4 linked regions of the Homo sapiens genome follow. The protein of the gene in region 3 purifies or fractionates together with the protein of the main gene of each other region. This does not show direct contact. Each region holds a gene or a part of one and is shown on either strand. Other genes may lie near its edges.

Region 1 (5,077 bases), on a different chromosome or scaffold from region 3:
CTGTTTCCTTAGCTGCAAAATAGGGTTGTATCGAGAACTAAATGACTATGTTACATAAAGTGCAAGGTACAAAGGATCCCTTAGTATCTGCTCGTTTATTCACTTTACCAGTCCAGAGCTGGAGCCGTCCAGACAGTTCAACACAGGGAGACACCGCCTAGCTTTCCTCGCTCTTTTAAAGACAGGCTGCTCCTGCCACAATGCCTCTAATCACACCTTTTGCAGGCTTAAAACCAAGGTCCTCAGCAAACTCCTGGCAGGGCAGTGGGGGTGTCCAAACCTCCAGGCTTAGAAACAGGTCCTGACAAACTGAGTCAGAAGTTGGGGGTGTTAACTAAGGAAGCCGAGGCTTGGGGGCTCTTCTGTAGTCTGGAGATATAAGGGTTTCTCCTTCCTCCCCATTTCCACAGTAAAAGCCTGTCTCTCAGAATCACATTAACTCTTTTTCTGAAAGTTAGGATTATTCATTTATGGGTTTCACTCCTTCTCCTGCAGCAAAGGCTCTTGAATGGGATTGAGTCATTTCTGTGGTCCCAGAGGACTTAGGACAGTATATGACAGTCATGACTCCTTAAGGATTTGGGGGATTAAAGAAGGAATGAAGAGGCAAAAAGGCAATTTGGCTGTCTTTCTCCAACACTCCAGGGCCTGGTCTACTAGGATGTGAGACCCTGAAACACCAGTTCCTGGGAAGTCATTGCTGTGAGGGGGTTGAGAAGACCAGTTACTCTCCTGCTGCCTTTCCCACCCCACCCCTTTTAATGATGGTCTAAGCTGTGGGCTATTCTTGGTAAAGGGCATGGCTGAAACCCACTGAACACAGTGATTTAAAAAATGAGAAGCGTTCTTTCTGAATTTGTGGCATCCTCTGAAGTTTACATCCTCCACTGGCTTTACACATCCTATTTTGACAGTTCTATTCATCCCACTCATTCGGGTCATACAACAGGAATTAAAGGCAAAAGTTCTGGGCATAGAACCCAGCTCTACCACCTACCAGCTGTGTGACCCTGGGCAAGTGGCTTAATCTCTCTGAGCCTCAGTTTCCTCCTCAGGAAGACAAAATTAATAGCATCTGGGTCAAAGGGCTGCTGTGAGGATTAAGTGAAACAAAGCATGGAAAGGGCTTAGCACAGGGAGGGCAAGGCAGGAAACAGGTGCTATTATGCAGCCAGCACCTCCTCAGAGCACGCTGTGGGCTGCACACTGCACTAGGCAGAAAGATGGCTATGAGGAATTTGACATAGACCCAACTTACCTCAAGGAGAGGACACAGGATGCAGAGAGGCAAAATGATATATACAGCCTAAGCAATTAAACTAAGGGGGCCGGGCATGATGGCTCATGCCTGTAATCCCAGTGCTTTGGGAGGCCGAGGTGGGTGGATTACCTGAGGTCAGGAGTTTGAGAGCAGCCCGGCCAACACGGTAAAACCCCATCTCTACTAAAAATACAAAAAATTAGATGAACATGGTGGCATGCACCTGTCATCCCAGCTACTAGGAAGGCTGAGGTACAAGAATCACTTGACCCTGGGAGGTGAAGGTTGCAGTGAACCGAGATCGCACCACTGCACTCCAGCCTGGGCAACAGAGCAAGACTCCATCTCAAAAAACAAAACAAAACAAAACAAAACAAAAACAAGGTGTCTCCTCCAGTGGTGGACTATGGGCACTATAGGTACTCAAATGCTTACCAGATAAGAGCAGGGAAGGCTTCCTGGAGGAGATGGCATTTGAGCTGAAGCACAAGGACAAAATTTGGACAAGGGCATGGGAGAAGTGAAGGGAGGAGAAGGCATTCCCGCAGGAAGCCACATGATAACAGAGGAAGAGGTAGGGCATGACGGGGTATGTACCAGTCTGGCTGGAACGTACAGCATGCATGAAAGGGAGCCACGGGACATGACTGGAAAAGACGGATGAATGAGCAAGATCACAGAAGGCCCTGAATGCCAACCAAGGAATCAGTTTCAATCTTCCCCACATTGCCTGTATAAGAGTAATGAGTTCGAAGTGAAGAATCCAACAGGATGGAAGAAACTGATGCCAGAAGAGATTGGTATAGGTCAGAGATCTGGGCCCACCTCCTCCAACACAGGACCTGCAACACAGCAGTCACGTGGATATTCTTTAGGTTAAGCAACTTCAATAAATGTTTAGGAGGACTAGAGACCAGATGAAGACAAATCAGTAGCACGGCAGAAGCAATGAGGGTTGCAGAAGAGGGAAGGAGATCATGGGAGAGCCGAGCAGTGGGCGACATGGGCTGAGGATGACAGGGAGAGGGATATTCAGATACAAGGAAACAGGAAACACAAGACAAGAAGCAAGAGTGAGGGGTGAGCTTCGAAACGGATTTTGAGGTGGCAGTAAAACCTTCAAAAAGAGGTTTGGAATATGCAGGTGTACAAATGAGAGTAGAGCTCACAGGAGAAAGCTAAAGAGGAAAATGCACACACCTGCTTGCCTCTCTGATTTCCCACTCTTCTTTCAAATCTTCATTGTGGACCCAATCGAGGCAGGCAGGTGTTGAGCACTGAGGATCTAGTGTCAATCCCTGTCCTCAAGAACGCAGTCTAATGAGACAGGAGACAAGCCAGGGGTAACAGAGTGTGACGGGCCAAAGGACACGTTCCCTCAGTGCTACTGGAACAGAGATCAGAAAAACCCAGCCCAGCTGCTGGATTAGAGACCTGCTGGAGGCAGGGGCATGGGCCTGGGGGCCCACAGCACAAGGCACGGCCAAGCTGAATTTTGATTCACCACTTAACAAAACAATTGTGCAACACCTTTGTTATATGGTGAGTAAATACCTAATTTGCTATTTGTTCCATTGTTTGGTTTTAAAGCCTCACCCTTTCCTGTGCGTTGGATTTGAACACTAGTCCTTAACACCATCAGGGTGCGTAGGGTTGATGGAGGTTTTTTTCTTCCCCTGACTTCCCCTACACCCAGCATCCACTCCTTTCTTACTAAAGCAGGACTCTTAAAAATATTCGTCTATTTTTTTGTTTCTGGAGATGCAGTTTCACCCTGTCGCCCAGGCTGGAGTGCAGTGGTGTGATCTCGGCTCACTGCAACCTCCGCCTCTGAAGCACAAGCAATCCTCCCACCTCAGCCTTCCAAGTAGCTGGGACTACAGGCACACGCCACCACACCTGGCTAATTTTTGTAGACACAGAATCCCACCATGTTGCCCAGGATGGTCTCCAACTTCTGAGCTTAAGTGATCCACCCACCTTGGCCTCCCAAAGTGCAGAGATTACAGGCATGAGCCACCATGCCCAGCCAAAAGTACTTGTCTTTTACAGAGGAAAAGTCCATAGTCCTACTGTAGAAGCAATCAGTAGGGAAGTCTTCCTTCAAATCCCCATCCCCATCCCCCATTCCTGTGTCCCAGCCCTCATGCAACCAATCCCTGCATAGCTGAAGTAGACCTGGGGCTAGACTGAAGGGACACTCTCTTCACTGAGCTGAGCAATGACCTGGACTCATCCACTAACCGGCCGAGTCCTGCTTTCCAAGCCAGGATGCAACTCCTAGGTATCCGGTGCTCTTGCTGCAGCCTGTGGGTCCAGAAATACACCTGATGTGTATTTGGCCACTGCTCCCACTCCTGGAGGCAATAATGTGCGAAGGACAATGGCATGTCTGGAAGGCAGGCAGCCCTTGCACATCAAGTGCCCACAGTCATGGCACTCTCCCAGTCTGTGCTGCATGGAGCCCACCCACTCTCTAAGGACTAGAAAGTCGTGAGAGTGGTGACTTTCAAGAGTCCCTTCCAGGGTCAACACCCATTTGCAATTTGCAACTCAGTGCAAGTCAGTTACAACAGGAGACGTGAGGAGGACGCATCCAGCTGGTCAGGGGCATAATGGCCGGCCTGCTGACCAGGACCCCACTGTTCCTGCACTTCTCCAGCCATATCTGGAGCAGCTGCATGTGTGTCCACTCTCACATCATCATCTCAGGTAACAAATCACAAGCCTACCTCTCTCAGTCCTTCTACCTGTCCCCTCCTGATTTGTACCAAGGGACTTGGGAACCTATGTAGTTGAACAGCAGACGTCATGATGGCCTTCTTGGTCTCTGGGAAGGTCACAGACCCTGTTTATGTTACTTGCCACATAGAACTGAACTCTTTTCTGCTTGCCTTCTTGCACAAAAGCTCAAAAGTGCTATCTAGAAATTTCAAAACCCCATTACCTGTCATCCCCAATTTATAGATGAGAAAGCCAAAGCTTGGAGAGGTTAGGTAGCTTGTTCAAGGTGACAAACTTAAACAAGTACAAGGGCTGGAATTTCAACCCAGGTCTCTGTGACTCCGGAGCCATCTAAAAAAAGTACTATACTCAGTATTTTATATCATTCCAACCAAGTTTAATGGGCAGTTTTTCACATGACTGGAAGCTTAGAACAAACACTAAAGGATCAGTGGCGTAGCCCATGAAGTGCATGGGCTCAAGCTCACCACGGATGATTGACAGTACCTATCTCATAGTGTTTGCTGGCAGTTCCTGGCATATGGAAAGCCCTTAAATGGCAGCTACTCATATTCTTAGTCCCGATTCCGTCACTATCCCTGGACAAGCCATTCCATCTGAGTCTCGGTGTCCTTGAAACAAGGAACCCTTCCAGCTCTGCGAAGTCAGTGATTCATACACACTCAATGGGCAGGTCTAGGCTCTGACCAGGCACATGTGCAGCCCCAACAGGCCCCTCAGGGCCAGTCATTCCAGTTCTCATTCTAGCTCTTCTTCCTCTGTGTGAAGGAGGAAGTTCGTACCGATCACCCCTTCTCACTGCACCTCAGTTTCCCTCCCTTCCCTCCCAGAGTCATAAAGTGAGGTCAGGTGTGCAACATGCTTGGAATTCCACCAAAGATCTGCACCCACTCAATGTCAGCCTGTGCTGTGGTCAATAACATCCTGGCTGCTGCATTCTCCCAGCTGACCACATGGCCTCCATTGACCCTTCACTTCCTCTCCTAACTCTCTCAGGACCCTCTTGCTAAAAAAGCAAAAGATATATTTTCTCTCCATGTATTACATGTTTTAATAGAACAGAAATAATCT
Region 2 (5,077 bases), on a different chromosome or scaffold from region 3:
GATAAGTAATATATTTCTCTTTCATTAGGGTCAGTTTCTGAAGATTTATCTTCATCCTTTGGTACATATTTCTCTGTTTATTTTTTTCACTCTTATTGTTGATATCTACACATTAGGAAAAAACAGCAACCTCTTAGCCTTTACAGACTGTCTTTGTACAGGAGAAGATCTTCACCAGTCAGCACAGCAGAGATTCCCAGAACCTCTCAAACCTTCATGCTAGTCCAAAGTGCTGTCTTTGTTCTTAGTGGTGCCTAGGTGTCTAGGGTCCTGTCTGGTCCATCTGGTCCATATGCTGGGTCCTATCAGTGCTACAAGACAGATGAGACAGAAGCCAGTCCCTTGGACAGCCCTCAGAAATGTTAGAATGTTGGACACGTGATCTACCTCTTTCCCGAGCCCTGCCCCAGGAGAAGCTGGGCTCTGGAGTTTCTCTCCAACTCATTTCATGCTGAGCTTCAGGGAGTGGTCATGGCAACTGCTTGTGTGCTTGTTCAAACTTCTGTCACATTATCACTGGCCCCTAGATATCTAGGGCGTTTTAGATTCCATCAGTGCTACAAGGCTGGCAAGACAGAAGCCAGTTCCTAGGGCAGCTCTTAGAAAAGTTGGAATGTTAGATACACAAGCCAAGTTTTTCCTTCCCCAAGGAGTGGTGGGGAGCTGCAGGTGTTCTTATGATCATATGGTGCTGTATTGGGGGTACATAATTGCTCTCGCAGATTATGGCAAGAGGGTGTCTCCAGTCTTCTACCAGGTTTGATGTTGTTCATTTCGTACTTGTGCAGGTGCAGAAGCATTGCACCTAGTTTCAGGATTTCTCACAAAGGGAATTCGTATATTATCGTTGAATCAGTGTGTTCATGTGGGGAAGGAGGGTTTAGGGCGTCCTATTCTTCCATCTTGCTGATGTCAACCTGTTACTTATTTTTCCTAAATTGGAAAAATGTAAATAAAATACTCATTTTGGAAACAAAATTATCTGACTTTAGTGGCTCTTTGAACTGGGTTTGAGAAGTACAGACAAACTCAACACTCTTATCTTAACATTAAAGTAGATATCTCAAGTCCCCTTTTAATACTTTTAGCTTGGAATACTTTCTAGTCTGTAGGGATAATTAATTTCTTTTTCTATTTCTGCATATCAAATATTGCTTTAAAGATTCCCTTCAGCTGTGTTACTTAGAGATTGAATAGGGAAATATTTTGTCTTTTGATTAACAGTTTTAGGCTAAAAAAATTAGATAAGTATGCCTTTGGTTTGTGTAGCAGACAAACTTCATGTTAGATAATTCGTGAATTTGTAGTCCATTCAAATGTTTATCTTCCAGTTTTCAGAGGGGTTTTTTGTTTGTGTTAGAATTCTTTCAAGTCATTTTATATTTTTATGAATTATTTGAGAAGAATACTTGTTAATCTCAGCCTGTATTTTTATTGTGAATGTGATTACCTATTATTGAGGGGCATAGTCCTCTGGGTGTTTCTAATTCAGCATCAAATAATTATTTCTTTATAGATACATATGTTACATACATATTTTACACATAAGCACACACACATCTTGCATATATAGATATGTATTTATATGTGTATAAACATGAATAATATTTATGTTTGTTATATACATTTATCTTGTATATTCCTGTTTATATACATATAAACATGTATATCCATATCTGTGCAGTAGTGTATAAAGTACCTTGAATTCTTTTCAACTTAGAATACTCAGAGGTCTTAAGGAATTATATTTCTTTAAATATTGAATAAGATTTACTTGAATTTAAAATTTTTTATTTTGCTAACATTTGGAAATGCTTTAATGGTATTTGTTAAGAAATGATGTAGCATGGTTGTTGACTAGCATGCAGTGTTCTATTAATATATTTGCCTTTTGGGGTTTCACAATTACACTATTATAAATCTTTTTGAGAGTACATTTTAGTCAGTATAGTATATATATTTTTTCTTAGTTTTAATCAAAAATAAAATCATTGGGAAATATAACCACTTGTTTTCCAGTTACTTATTATAGAAAGAATAAGTTAAGAAATGTGAATAAATTGAACAAATTAATAAAATATTTGTTAATAATCCACCTTATGGAGGATTTAAAAATAATTTTAATTATAAAATAATGTATTTTAATATAGTTCAGAAATAAAAGTGTTGCTCCCTCTCCACTATCAGATACCTCAGGTACATTCTTAGGGTAGTTAACAGCTTCTTAAATAGCTTCTCAGATATGTTCTGTGCATATACAAGTATATACGTATGAGTATGTATATGAGTGTATGATGGAATTGTACATACACAAGATCTACATATATTCTTTTAAAAAGTACTAATGTACTTTTATATTGTACTTTTATAAGGTATTGTGTTTTATAAGGTATATGAATTAAATATATTGTCCATATACATTGAGAAAATTGGGTAAATTGATGTGCATAATAAACATGTCATCTCTTTATGTTTATTTGAAGTTTTTTTCTGATTGTTCTAGTGGCATAGAAGTAAAGTTTCTTTAATACAGTTTAATAACATTATATTTTAAAACTTTATGAAAACAGAATTTTTAATTTGTGTAAAAGATTTTACCCTTAATACATGTTCTTAATATCCATCATACTGAAAATAGTGGGCTATCTTTGGTTAGCAGGGTTATTGTGAATGTTGTATATGGGAAGGGCAGGCATTCTGTTATTTCAGTACTGTGATACCATGTTGTTTGAGGTGGGTCTTTTTCTAAGCAATGGGCATGTTCTACTTTTATTAAAGTGATGATAGAAAATGACTTTAAAGCATGTAGTGACATAAAGTTGTTAGGAGATATAACTAATGCTAAATGACGAGTTAATGGGTACAGCACACCAACATGGCACATGTATACGTATGTAACAAACCTGCACGTTGTGCACATGTACCCTAAAACTTAAAGTATAATTATAATAGAATTAAAAAAAAATAAAGTAGTAGTTTTTAAAAAATCCTCAAAACTGAGCTCATTGTGTGGTTTTACTAATTTTGGTTTTAGGCTTGTGCAGACATAAGAGCCAGTTCAGTGTTTTGGCAGCAAATGGAGTTCGTTGATAGCCTGCATGGCCAACCCAAGATGCCAGAATGGTTATCTACACACCCTTCTCATGGCAATCGAGTTGAGTACTTGGATAGACTTATACCTCAGGTGAGCTGACACCGTAGAAGGCGGGACATTATTTTTACTGTATCATTTATTTTTAATGCTGTCACTTCTTTTGCTTAGTAAAAGAGAGTTCTAGCCTATTAACTATTTTGATTACTATAATTATGGATTATCAGTTGTCACAGAATTTGACTGAAAAGCAAAATTCTGCTTGTCCACAAGTCTTGGAGAATAAATTACTATGTACAGTTGACTTTTCTTAATAGTGAAGGTTTAACTCCTTTAGTATGAGACTTTAATTTTAACTGACTTGATGAAAGTTTAAAACTCAAGGCATATTAAGTTTTTTAAACATGTTGATGATAATTTAATCTTTCCTTGGTGATTTAAGCTTTTTGTTAAAAATACCAGTTAATGAGTTGTACAGAAGTTTTGGGTCAAGTGGATATTAATTGTAGTAGTGGTACTGGAATTTGTTTTTTTAGGAAAAAAAATCTTCATGTTTGTTTCTGGTTATTTATTTCTTTATGAAGATAAGAGTGAAGCATTTGCTCTCTGGCTTTTCTTTCTGTAGAATTCATAAGTGGGTCAAGCTGAGGCGGCTTTCTGCCAAGTAGTTTTCAGTATCCTCTGAAAATCTTTTGATTTGTTGACATCATTCAGAATGTTTTTATGGTTTCCATATCAGGACAAAATGGATGTTAGGCATCTCTGAGCCACGTTACACGCTCTCTTCTATCTCACTTGTATTAAATTTGGTGGCTTGTTATGAAAGCGGAACATTTTTTAGCAATTTAAGAATTGGTACTGGGCCATGTGCTAAGGCATAGCACAACAGATCCAGGTGTATTATAGAAGTATCTTTCTCATGCCTGTTATCCCAGCATTTTGGGAGGCTGAGGTGGGTGGATCACCTGAGGTCAGGAGTTCGAGACCAGCCTGGCCAACGGGGTGAAACCCTGTCTCTACTGAAAATACAAAATTAGGCGGGCGTGGTGGCATGCGCCTGTAATCCCAGCTACTCGGGAGATTGAGGCAGGGGAATCGCTTGAACCCTGGAGGCAGAAGTTGTAGTGAGCCGAGATCGTGCCACTGCACTCTAGTCAGCGACAGGGTGAGACTCTGTCTCAAAAAAAAAAAAGAAGTATCTTTCAGTATGACTTCAAATTCAGCCCAACAAATACGGAGTACCTCTTAAAAGAAAGAAATGATGCTAGATGTGGGGGATACAAAGAGGAATAAGATATGGTTCTTGATATTTACAGGATGCTAAGATAAATAAAAAATGATTATTAGTACAAGGATATGATTTATCATAAGAAAAATAAAAACGGTATGCAGTTTGAAGGAAGATGAATCTGCTTCTAGTTTGGGATAAGAAACTCTAGTGCAAGATTTATTCATTCATTAGGTAGATCGATATTTATTGATACTTATTGATTAATCTACTATTCTGTGTTCTATTGCTGGGGAATGAGCAAGGAACAAAACAGTCTGTTTTCTTGGAGTTAACATTCTAGTTAGGTAATGCAAATAAGAAACAAACATATAGTATGCCAAGCAATAATAAGTACCTTGGGAAAAAATAAAGCAGATTAAAGGTATTAGAGAGGGGTGGGCAGCAGAGAAGGGGTACTAGTCTATGTTCGGTTGTCAAGGAAGGCCTCACTAATCAGAATCCGGAAGGAAGCACGGGAGCAAGTCCTTTAGCTGTGTGGAGGGAGAGAGAGCCTTTTAGGCTGAGGAAGCAGCTGATGCAGAGAACCTAAAGTCAGCGTATGTTTGATGTGTTCAAGGAATAGCAAGGAAGACATTGGGGCTGAATGGAGTAAGGGAAGGGAAGAACAGTTCAAGATGAGGTGAAAGGGGACCAGACCACGCAGGATCTTCTAAGCCATTGTAAGGACTTGACTTTCACTTCAAGTGATAGGAGAA
Region 3 (4,699 bases):
GGAATGGATGGGCAGAGAGAGGAGTCTGGGGGCTGGATCACCAGGGTCCTTGAGCTCCAACACTCCCCACCTTTCCAGGATGTGGACTGCGCCTACCTCCGCAAGTCAGACCTGGAGGCCAACGTGGAGGCCCTGATCCAGGAGATCGACTTCCTGAGGCGGCTGTATGAGGAGGTGCGGGCTCAGGGGCCAGACAGAAACCTGGCAGCCAGCAGAGAGGAGAGTTGGGGGTGGGAGTGTTGGACAGGATGTGGGTAGAGGTTGCAGTCCCTGAGGCTGTGTGAGGGGGCAGGGTTGGGGACCAGAGAAAGCCTGAGGAGGTGGAGTCAGGACATGGTGGGTGGGGCTGTATTCTCAACTAAAGTCACTGCCCTCACCTCCTGCAGGAGATCCTCATTCTCCAGTCGCACATCTCAGACACCTCCGTGGTTGTCAAGCTGGACAACAGCCGGGACCTGAACATGGACTGCATCATTGCCGAGATTAAGGCACAGTATGACGACATTGTCACCCGCAGCCGGGCCGAGGCCGAGTCCTGGTACCGCAGCAAGGTGAGTGGCACAGGACACCTGCCTGCTAGACGTGTCAGTGGGAGGGATGTGAGATATCTATTAAATAGGCTTCCTTTTCTGGGGATGCTGGTCCCTAGGGATGAGAAGAGAGGGCTGCCAATCTGAGGTTGGGGTGGCAGGGCAGGACTGCCATGTGTGGCTGCACAGGCTGAGCACTGTACAACCTGCAAAATCATCTGTGGTGTCCTGAATGGATGGGAGGTCCCACCCTGAACCTCATGAGCATCTCTACTTCCCCCAGTGTGAGGAGATGAAGGCCACGGTGATCAGGCACGGGGAGACCCTGCGCCGCACCAAGGAGGAGATCAATGAGCTGAACCGCATGATCCAAAGGCTGACGGCCGAGGTGGAGAATGCCAAGTGCCAGGTATGGGGCATCTGTGCGCAAGGTCAGAGAGACCGAGGGCCTAACCATTGTCACACAGCCTATGTGTGCCCTACCTGGATCTCAGCATTCATTCTCCACCCCCTTTGTCCATGTAGAGTCCCTGGTCGTGGTCTCTCAATGAGTCCCAGGTGATAAAGGCAAGAGGCTCTGTTCTGGGGTGCTCCCAGCTTGGTGGGGAGTGTGGTCTCATTTGGATGAGCATCAGAGAGACCCAGGGACTCTAATCTACCTTGTTCTTTCTGTTCTCTTCAGAACTCCAAGCTGGAGGCCGCGGTGGCCCAGTCTGAGCAGCAGGGTGAGGCGGCCCTCAGTGATGCCCGCTGCAAGCTGGCCGAGCTGGAGGGCGCCCTGCAGAAGGCCAAGCAGGACATGGCCTGCCTGATCAGGGAGTACCAGGAGGTGATGAACTCCAAGCTGGGCCTGGACATCGAGATCGCCACCTACAGGCGCCTGCTGGAGGGCGAGGAGCAGAGGTGGGTCCAACCAAGGGTGGCCCAGAACCACCCTTCCCCATCCCTGGCACAAGCCTACCCTTGGCCTTGGCTGAGCAATGGCCAGGGCTCTGGGGGAAAAAAATATTATTATTCACTTCCGGTGTGGGGAGGGCTGGTGTGTGAGTTTGTCTGAGGCAAGCTGTTCCCTCAGACTCTGTTCTTAATTGACCAGTTGTGGACCCTACCCTATGAACTGGGGAGCTTTTTCAGCCACTCTGGGGCAGTCACTAATGTTGCCTTTTTCTCTTTTGCCCTCAGGCTATGTGAAGGCATTGGGGCTGTGAATGTCTGTGAGTATTTGGGGTCCAGTGTGGACAGATTTACTAACTACCTGTGATGGAGGGCAGAGTTTGGAAAAAGGAGTGTTACTGAGATTGAATATAAAAGAGTGGGCTGGCATCACAACAGGAGGGATTTGGGGTCAGACATCCAAAAGACCCCAGCTCTTGGACTAGATGGACCTAGAATTGTCCACAAAGATGCTTCTGACTTTTCATACCAGAGCTCAGGTCTTGGGCAGGGGCGGTTGTCAGGAAGGCAGGATGGCTTGCCCTTCAGAATTTTGACTCAGCCTTCGGGGTTCACAGGTGTCAGCAGCTCCCGGGGCGGGGTCGTGTGCGGGGACCTCTGCGTGTCAGGCTCCCGGCCAGTGACTGGCAGTGTCTGCAGCGCTCCGTGCAACGGGAACGTGGCGGTGAGCACCGGCCTGTGTGCGCCCTGCGGCCAATTGAACACCACCTGCGGAGGGGGTTCCTGCGGCGTGGGCTCCTGTGGTATCAGCTCCCTGGGTGTGGGGTCTTGCGGCAGCAGCTGCCGGAAATGTTAGGCACCCCAACTCAAGTCCCAGGCCCCAGGCATCTTTCCTGCCCTGCCTTGCTTGGCCCATCCAGTCCAGGCGCCTGGAGCAAGTGCTCAGCTACTTCTCCTGCACTTTGAAAGACCCCTCCCACTCCTGGCCTCACATTTCTCTGTGTGATCCCCCACTTCTGGGCTCTGCCACCCCACAGTGGGAAAGGCCACCCTAGAAAGAAGTCCGCTGGCACCCATAGGAAGGGGCCTCAGGAGCAGGAAGGGCCAGGACCAGAACCTTGCCCACGGCAACTGCCTTCCTGCCTCTCCCCTTCCTCCTCTGCTCTTGATCTGTGTTTCAATAAATTAATGTAGCCAACCTGGGTCTTGTGTGTGTCTCTATTACCCTCCTCAGGGGTCGGGGTTAGGGAGGGTCCCCAAAGTCACATGGAGCAGCAAAAGGCCAAGCCAAGGGTCTCCAGTACAGTTTTCTATCCCCCGCCTCATAGAAGGTTCAGATTTAGCCAAGAGTTGTGCTAGGCCCCTATTTGATGTAACTTTATCCACACAACCCTAATGATACACCTTGCAGATGAAGAAGCCAGAACTCAGAGGCACTCAATAATTGGGGCAGGGTCACCCACTTAGTTGGGTGGTTCATCTGGGGTTTAAGCCCTGTGTGTGTCGCTAGTGCTCATTTCACTAAACTGCAGCTGTCTCTCAGAAAACATCTCATGCATATCTGCAAACTGATGGATCATGAAAATCAGATTCACCAATCACTCAAAGCTTGAGGCAACATCACCCATTGCTTTGGTAGGGAAGACTCATGCCTGAGTAATTTATTGGAATTCTTTAAGAGGTGAATACATGAATATGATTTAAAGTTTCAAAAAGCCTTTGATGTTGGCTTTCTTTTTTTTTTTTTTAAATGGCATCACTCTGGGGTTTTGGAGACCTGCCACAGCTGATACATTTTCCTCAAAGACAGAAAACAGCACATAGCAAGATGATGTGGCATAGAGGGGGGACACGGACTCCAGCCAGACTGCCTGGGCCCCAAGCTGGGCCCTGGTCCTTCCTAGGTGAGTGGGTTGGGCAATGTATTTACCCTCTCTGTGCCTGTTTCCACACCTCCAAAATGAGGATGATAGAAAGGGCAACCACCTCATAAGTTGATGAGTTAAAGGATTTCATATACGTAAAAGGTTTAGATGGTGCATGCCACAAAATTATCACTCTATTTTTTATCATTAGTGTTATTCTTTTGCAGAATGTAAAGTAGAAGTCCCTCTAGGGATCAGGGCCTCTTATGGCCAACCTCTTATTACATTGATATCTGTGATCAGAGATTGCAAGTACAGAGAGAAACCTCCGTGGTTACCAGGGCCATTCAGCTCCTTCATGCATGGAAGTATTAACTTGACACTGACGAGGTAGGGGAAGGGGAAGATGACAGCTCAGCCCCACTATGGGCCAAGGTGACTCCCTGAACATACATCTTTAAGCCGGAGTGAATCTCTAAACTTCCAGTCCAAGGCCCAGAAAATACAGCAGAAATGGGAGTCCCCCACCCCTACCCTTCTGGGCACTAGAAATTATTAAGAATATTAAGAGACCAGAAGTGAGTGGACTGAAAAGAACAAATTCTCCTGTAAAAGCTAGAATCAAACCAAGGTCTCTCAGCCACCCCTGATGGAATTCTGAGAGGGACACAATCCTAGAAAGTTCCAGAATTTGTGATCAATCATTCCAACCAGCCCTGTATGCTGTGACATCACACAGCTCAGAAGCTGGCCCTAGGCCAGGTGCAGTGGCTCACACCTATAATCTCAACACTTTAGGAGGCCAAGGTGAAAAGATCGCTTGAGCCCCAGAGTTAGAGATCAGCCCAGACAATACAGTGAGACTCTATCTCTATAAAATATAAAAATATTAGCTGGGCGACGTGGTGTGCACCTATAGTCCCAGCTACTTAGGGGGCCGAAGCAGGACAGCTTGAGCCCAGGAAGTTGAAGCCGCACAGTGAGCCATGTTTGTGCCACTGCCTCCAGCGTGGGCGACACAGCAAGACCCTGTTTCAAAAAAATAAAAAAACAAGAAGCAGCAGCAGCAGCAGCAGCCCCTGTCAGGAGTCCAGACCTGAGACTCAAGCACCAGCTCCATCCCTCCCTAGTTCAGAAGCCAACTACAACTCCAGTCCTGATGGACTTCTCACCTATTCCAACTTCAGCCTAGCTGGGCCTTAGTGACCTGCCGTATTTCACTCCCTCACTCTCCCTCTAGCTCTGACCCTCTCTTCCTTCCTACTCCGGCCCCACAATCCTCACCTCCCTCTAGGTTCCCATTCCTGCACAGGCTCAGACAGAGGAGCAAGGCGGGAAGGAATCAAACACATAATGCCCCGGGTGCAGAATGGTGAAGAAAATGGAACATCTCACTGTGTGACCTTTAGC
Region 4 (5,077 bases), about 46 Mb from region 3:
AGGCTTTCTGAGCTTGAGTCCTGTCCTCGTGCTGGCTTCCTTAGTTGTGGTCCATGTTATGTGTCCTTGGGAGTTTCAGTTGTCCTGAAATCATCGTTCTGCCACCCAGAACCAGCCTGCTCTGCCCCTGCAGGAGTTAACTACGCGCTCAGCAGTGGCACAGGCACAGTTCTGGAATACATCCATAACCACAGGAACAACTGCTGTTCTCAGGAGCATTTTTTTTTTAAACTGAAGGAGCGTTTGTCCTTGGTCCAGCTGTCCAGGACAGGAAGGAGTTATTCCTTGGGGACTGATTAGCTCATCGCTCTGCAGCACGCTGCTGTGTAGAGAGCCTTAGCTGGATTCGGATGGTGCGTGATACTGGCAGTGACTCTTCTTCCTCCCTAGATTCCCTGCCCTCATTCTGGTCTCTTTATAGCAACACTGTAACTCCTGTCTTCTGCCTGGAAGGCCTGGGATGGCTTGAGCGCTACACTGGGAGGTAGCTAAAGGCCTCCTGCGTTCTATTTTCAGCTCCCCTGCCTTGTGCGTGACCTTTTTTTGAGCCCCCATTTTCCCAACATAGGAATGGTCCCTGCTTTCTCTCTTCAACCCAGGGATACAGTTTTTTGGAAGAGAGATATTTGGTCCATGCAGAACACATGGATATCGCTCTCAAATTCTGCCCATGTTAAGGGAACCTTATAAGTGAGACCAGATGGAAATGGAGGTGAAAATGAACCTGTCTGTGTGAAGTCTGGCCAAAGAACAAATAGAACTGTAGTGGGCTTCCAGATGATTCATTTGTAGATTTTTTTTACCCTGTAAGATTTCCTTAGGCTTAACCTTTAGCTATAACTGCCTTACTTAAGTTTCTTCCAGGCTCTGTTGAGCTCACTGTCAGATAGCCCCTCCTGCCCTCTTTCACACATCTTGTCCAGGGTTAGCGTGCCCTTGACAGGCTTACTGTCTCCCTCCAGGGACTCGTGGGCTCCCGGCGCATGAGGGCACCACAGTTCATGCCTTCACATCATAGATGAAGAAACCAAGACCCAGAAAAGATAAGGGTCTTAGCTAAGAAAACATAATCTGATGCGACTGGTTCCCTTAGTGGCCTGACTGTATGCATGAGAATGCCAGGGAGGAGGGGAGAAGCACCTACGGGACACACAGGGAAGGGGGCTGGGAGCCAGGAAGGCTGGGAGCTGGGCTGTGTGGGGAGCCAGCAGGGTGGTGGCTGGGCTGGCTGCCTCCTCCTGCTCTGCCCAGCAGGGAGGGGCAGTCGAGGTGATGTGGAGGAGTTATTATTAGGAATACTGCAGTGCGGCTGTGAATGAGGAGATGGGACCCAGAGGCTGACACAGGAAGGAAGATGGAGGGAAGGGGAAGAAAGGGCTTCACCCAAGGCTTCAGAAGCTGCCCACTCAGATTTTAATTTTCTTGCTGTCTTCTTGGCCCCTTCCTAACCACCTTTCTTGTGTTGAAGTTTCTCTCTTGGTGCAGTTCCCCTCCCTTCTCGGGTTGACAGAAGTGATGAGCTCACAGGAACAGGATTTGAGATGTGCTGCTACGCCAGCTAGACTGCAGGGCCCTGGAATGCCGGGCGGGTCCTAAGCAGCACGTTGCCCTGGCTTCCATCTCTGTGATGGAATAGAATATGCACTGCCTGCCATGGCTGATGAGACATGACAAAGCTGGCTCTGGGAAGCATGCCCTACCTAGGACCCTGCCCTGTGGCCCAGGGTGTCGTCCGGCCCACTTGCAGTCTTAATCTCTGAATTCTGGGCCCTGGAACAGGCTGTGTCTAGTTCTCATTTGCCGTACTCACCGGGCCCCTTTACATACTCTACTTTCTCTTTCCCTCTGGGTTTGAGTGCTAGTAACCCCAGGCTCGTGTGTCCACTGCTGTCATGCTGCTGTGGGACTTCCGGCCTCTGAGCCAGTCTGGTCACCTCTCTGTGACTCCCTTAGAGGAGGCTCTGGGTGGGTAGTTTCTGGAGCTAGTGGGGAAGGACTTTGAGTGTCTCCTACCAGGCTCTTGACCCACTCTGTTGATACACTATGTGTCCTGCAGATGCTTTTACAGGGTTAAATGATACCACAAGAGGCAGGGCAGCGGGCTCGACGAGCTCTGTTCTGGTGCGGGCAGGAGGCGGGAGCCCGGATCTGTGCGACTGAAGGTGGGAGACTGGGCCGGGTGGACCTGGTGGTCTGGTGTGGGCAGGAGGTGGGCAATGAGGCCAGCCGGACAGCTGGCTGAGCTGGGGCCTGAGCAGGGATGGGCATCACGGAGGACCGGAGCCTCAGCACTTGCCCAAACAGAGCTCCTGGTGCACAGCCCGGAGGTTCCGGGAAGGCAGCTGGCGAGCTCGACGCCCATCAGGAAGCACAGAGCCGCGTGACAGCTGCAGTTGGTCACCAGCTGGCTGGCCAGGCATTCCTGTGCCCTGCTCCTCCCCATCCAGGGAACCAGAACTGGGGTCTGAGGCCTGAGCCAGAGAGGTGGGGACAGGGAGCCATGGGGGCAGGGAAGGACTCTGTACCTAAGCTCTCTCCGCCCTTCCCATGTCTGTCAGGTGGGAAGAGGAGTACACGGTGCGGATCCAGCTGCAAGACCGTGTAAATGAGCTCCAGGAGGTGAGGGTGGCGCCCCACTTGCTGCTGGTGCTTCCCTGGGTACCCCTGTCTGCCCATGACCCTGCTGCCGTCTCCCTGTCCCTCCTTGGCATCTTTATCTTCCTCCCACCTCGGCAGTGCCACCAACATCAGGGTTTCTCCCAACTGCAGGAAGCCCAGGAGGCTGATGCCTGCCAGGAGGAGCTGGCACTGAAGGTGGAACAGTTGAAGGCTGAGCTGGTGGTCTTCAAGGGGCTCATGAGTAACGTGAGTGCAGCCCCAGGCTTCCCGAGGGTCGAAGTGAGGCTTCTGAGGCCAGAAGAGTAGGCCCTTCTAGTGTTGGCCTGTTGGCCTCCCGTCCACGGCTCCTCCCCTTCTCTTTGCTTTCCTTCCCTTTTTCCCCTAGCCACCCCTAACTCCAGAGAAAGACAAGCAACAAAAGTCTCGGTGTTGCGTCACAGAGGTGGCGCAGCTTCTGAGGGCCTGGGGTTGCAGAGCAGTTAGTGAGCAGCTTCTGGGGTGGAGGCTCTGCAGCTGGCGCCGGGGCGCTGGGCCGATTCCTCAGCCTCTGAGGCCTCACCTTTGGCGTGGGGAAATAAACGCGTGCGCTCTGCAGGAGTATTGTGAGGGTGGTCATGTACTCGGGACAGTGCCCAGCATGCAGTGTTAGCTGGAAGAGTGTTAGCTGTTGCGATTATTATAGTCCTTTCTCCACTCTTATAATTCCCAGGAGTCTCTTTCTCTCTGGGAATGTAAGTTCTAGGAGGATGAGGACCGCTAGTCGTTCCAGTGAGCCCCCTGCATGTCCCAGGCACTGGCCATGCCCTCCAGGGCTTCCGTTTGGCCAGGGAGCAGTGGCCCGAGCCGCCCCATGCCCAGCATATTCACACAGTGCTGTGGGGAGGCCACCGCTACCCAGGAAGAGGGGTGCAGTCAGCTCAGGGAGACTCCACAGAAGAGGCACCGGTGCAATGTGGTGGGAAGGATGAGGACCTTGCCAGGCCTAATTCGTCCTTGTCTGGAGAACTGGGCGCCTCCTCACTGTTCCCTGGGCTCCCTGGACAGAACCTGTCGGAGCTGGACACCAAGATCCAGGAGAAAGCCATGAAGGTGGATATGGACATCTGCCGCCGCATCGACATCACCGCCAAGCTCTGCGATGTGGCTCAGCAGCGCAACTGCGAGGACATGATCCAGATGTTCCAGGTGAGGACGGAGCTGCCCTCTGCTCTCAGGGGTGGGTGGGGCAGGTGGATGCTTCCGTGGCGGCTGGCCTGGAACGCAGGCCCTGCCTCCTGCTTGGGGAGCCTTACCTGGCAACTGGGGCCCTCACGGGGCTAGACTGGGGGGTAAGGAGCAGCATCAGGAGGGGCATCGTGGAAGCTGTCTCTAACGCCGTCTCTCCCTTCCCCCTCTCTCTCCTCTGTCTGCTTCCTCTCCTCTCTTCCTCTCATCTTCTCTCTTGCTTCCTCCACAGAAGAAGCTGGTTAGTTTGATCTCACGCAAGCTTATTAATGTCCCAGTCCCAGTTTCTAAGCTGCCTAGGCCTCCTGGCCCTCAGTTTGGGCCCGCTGGGCTCTTGAGCACGGATTTTTTTCTGCCCTTTCCCTTTTCCTTGCTCTTCCCCCTTTTTCTCTCTATCTCTTGTTCTCTTGACTGCATTTCTTTCTCTCCCTTCTCCCCCGGCTTTCCAGATCTGGATGTGATTCAGGTTCTCTTTTGTACACATTGCACACTCATCCTCCTTGCGTCCTAAAGCTTTTTTTTTTTTAGTTGAGTCATTTAATCAAAAAGACTTTTTTTAGAAAAAAATTTCCTCTTGAGCCATCATGCACATCTGACTGCAGCCCCAGCGAGCCCTTCCTTCCTTGTCTGACTGCTCTTCTTCTCGATTTCTTCTTGTTCTGCCTTCTCGGTTTGCAGCCCTGACCCCCGCTGTGTGTCTGGCCCTTGGTGACTGTCCGTGTTTCTGTTCCTGTCATTGTAACTGTGACTTTTCTCTCTGTCTGCCCCCCCTTCCTACTGGTTCATGCTTCTCCCCCATTCCCACCCTCTCTGCCCGGCCTCCCGCTCCCGCCCTTTCTCCTCATGCACCCGGCCTCGTCTCTGTAGTCTCTGCACTTGTCTCCCATTAAGGTCCCATCCATGGGGGGGCGGAAGCGGGAGCGCAAGGCTGCCGTCGAGGAGGACACCTCCCTGTCGGAGAGTGAGGGGCCCCGCCAGCCCGATGGGGATGAGGAGGAGAGCACAGCCCTCAGCATCAACGAGGAGATGCAGCGCATGCTCAACCAGCTGTGAGTCCGCAGGCCGTGCTCCCGCAGCACCGACGCCACAGCAGCCCAGGAGGCCGGAGCTCCCCAGTCCCCCGCCAGGACGAGGCCCCGCCCGCCCTGACACCCGGGTTCCCTGTCTCTAGGAGGGAGTATGATTTTGAGGACGACTGTGACAGCCTGACTTGGGAGGAGACTGAGGAGACCCT

The links. The genes of interacting proteins can lie anywhere in the genome.
Region 1: the proteins of KRT81 (region 3) and FAM83D purify together in Homo sapiens (affinity purification with mass spectrometry; one large-scale study listed by BioGRID and IntAct). This does not show direct contact.
Region 2: the proteins of KRT81 (region 3) and OMA1 purify together in Homo sapiens (affinity purification with mass spectrometry; one large-scale study listed by BioGRID and IntAct). This does not show direct contact.
Region 4: the proteins of KRT81 (region 3) and IFFO1 purify together in Homo sapiens (affinity purification with mass spectrometry; one large-scale study listed by BioGRID and IntAct). This does not show direct contact.

The regions. Positions count from the first base shown.
Region 1 is NC_000020.11:38,935,900-38,940,976, reverse strand, and holds part of FAM83D (protein FAM83D), read right to left. Parts: intron 1-5,077.
Region 2 is NC_000001.11:58,504,167-58,509,243, reverse strand, and holds part of OMA1 (metalloendopeptidase OMA1, mitochondrial precursor), read left to right. Parts: intron 1-3,034; coding exon 3,035-3,184; intron 3,185-5,077. UniProt on the Homo sapiens protein: Metalloprotease that is part of the quality control system in the inner membrane of mitochondria. Activated in response to various mitochondrial stress, leading to the proteolytic cleavage of target proteins, such as OPA1, UQCC3 and DELE1.
Region 3 is NC_000012.12:52,283,836-52,288,534, reverse strand, and holds the end of KRT81 (keratin, type II cuticular Hb1), read left to right. Parts: intron 1-78; coding exon 79-174; intron 175-386; coding exon 387-551; intron 552-813; coding exon 814-939; intron 940-1,212; coding exon 1,213-1,433; intron 1,434-1,712; coding exon 1,713-1,744; intron 1,745-2,041; coding exon 2,042-2,280; 3' UTR 2,281-2,622; downstream 2,623-4,699.
Region 4 is NC_000012.12:6,548,483-6,553,559, reverse strand, and holds part of IFFO1 (non-homologous end joining factor IFFO1), read left to right. Parts: intron 1-2,056; exon of another isoform or gene 2,057-2,162; intron 2,163-2,558; coding exon 2,559-2,619; intron 2,620-2,769; coding exon 2,770-2,865; intron 2,866-3,663; coding exon 3,664-3,804; intron 3,805-4,075; coding exon 4,076-4,084; intron 4,085-4,710; coding exon 4,711-4,892; intron 4,893-5,014; coding exon 5,015-5,077. UniProt on the Homo sapiens protein: Nuclear matrix protein involved in the immobilization of broken DNA ends and the suppression of chromosome translocation during DNA double-strand breaks (DSBs).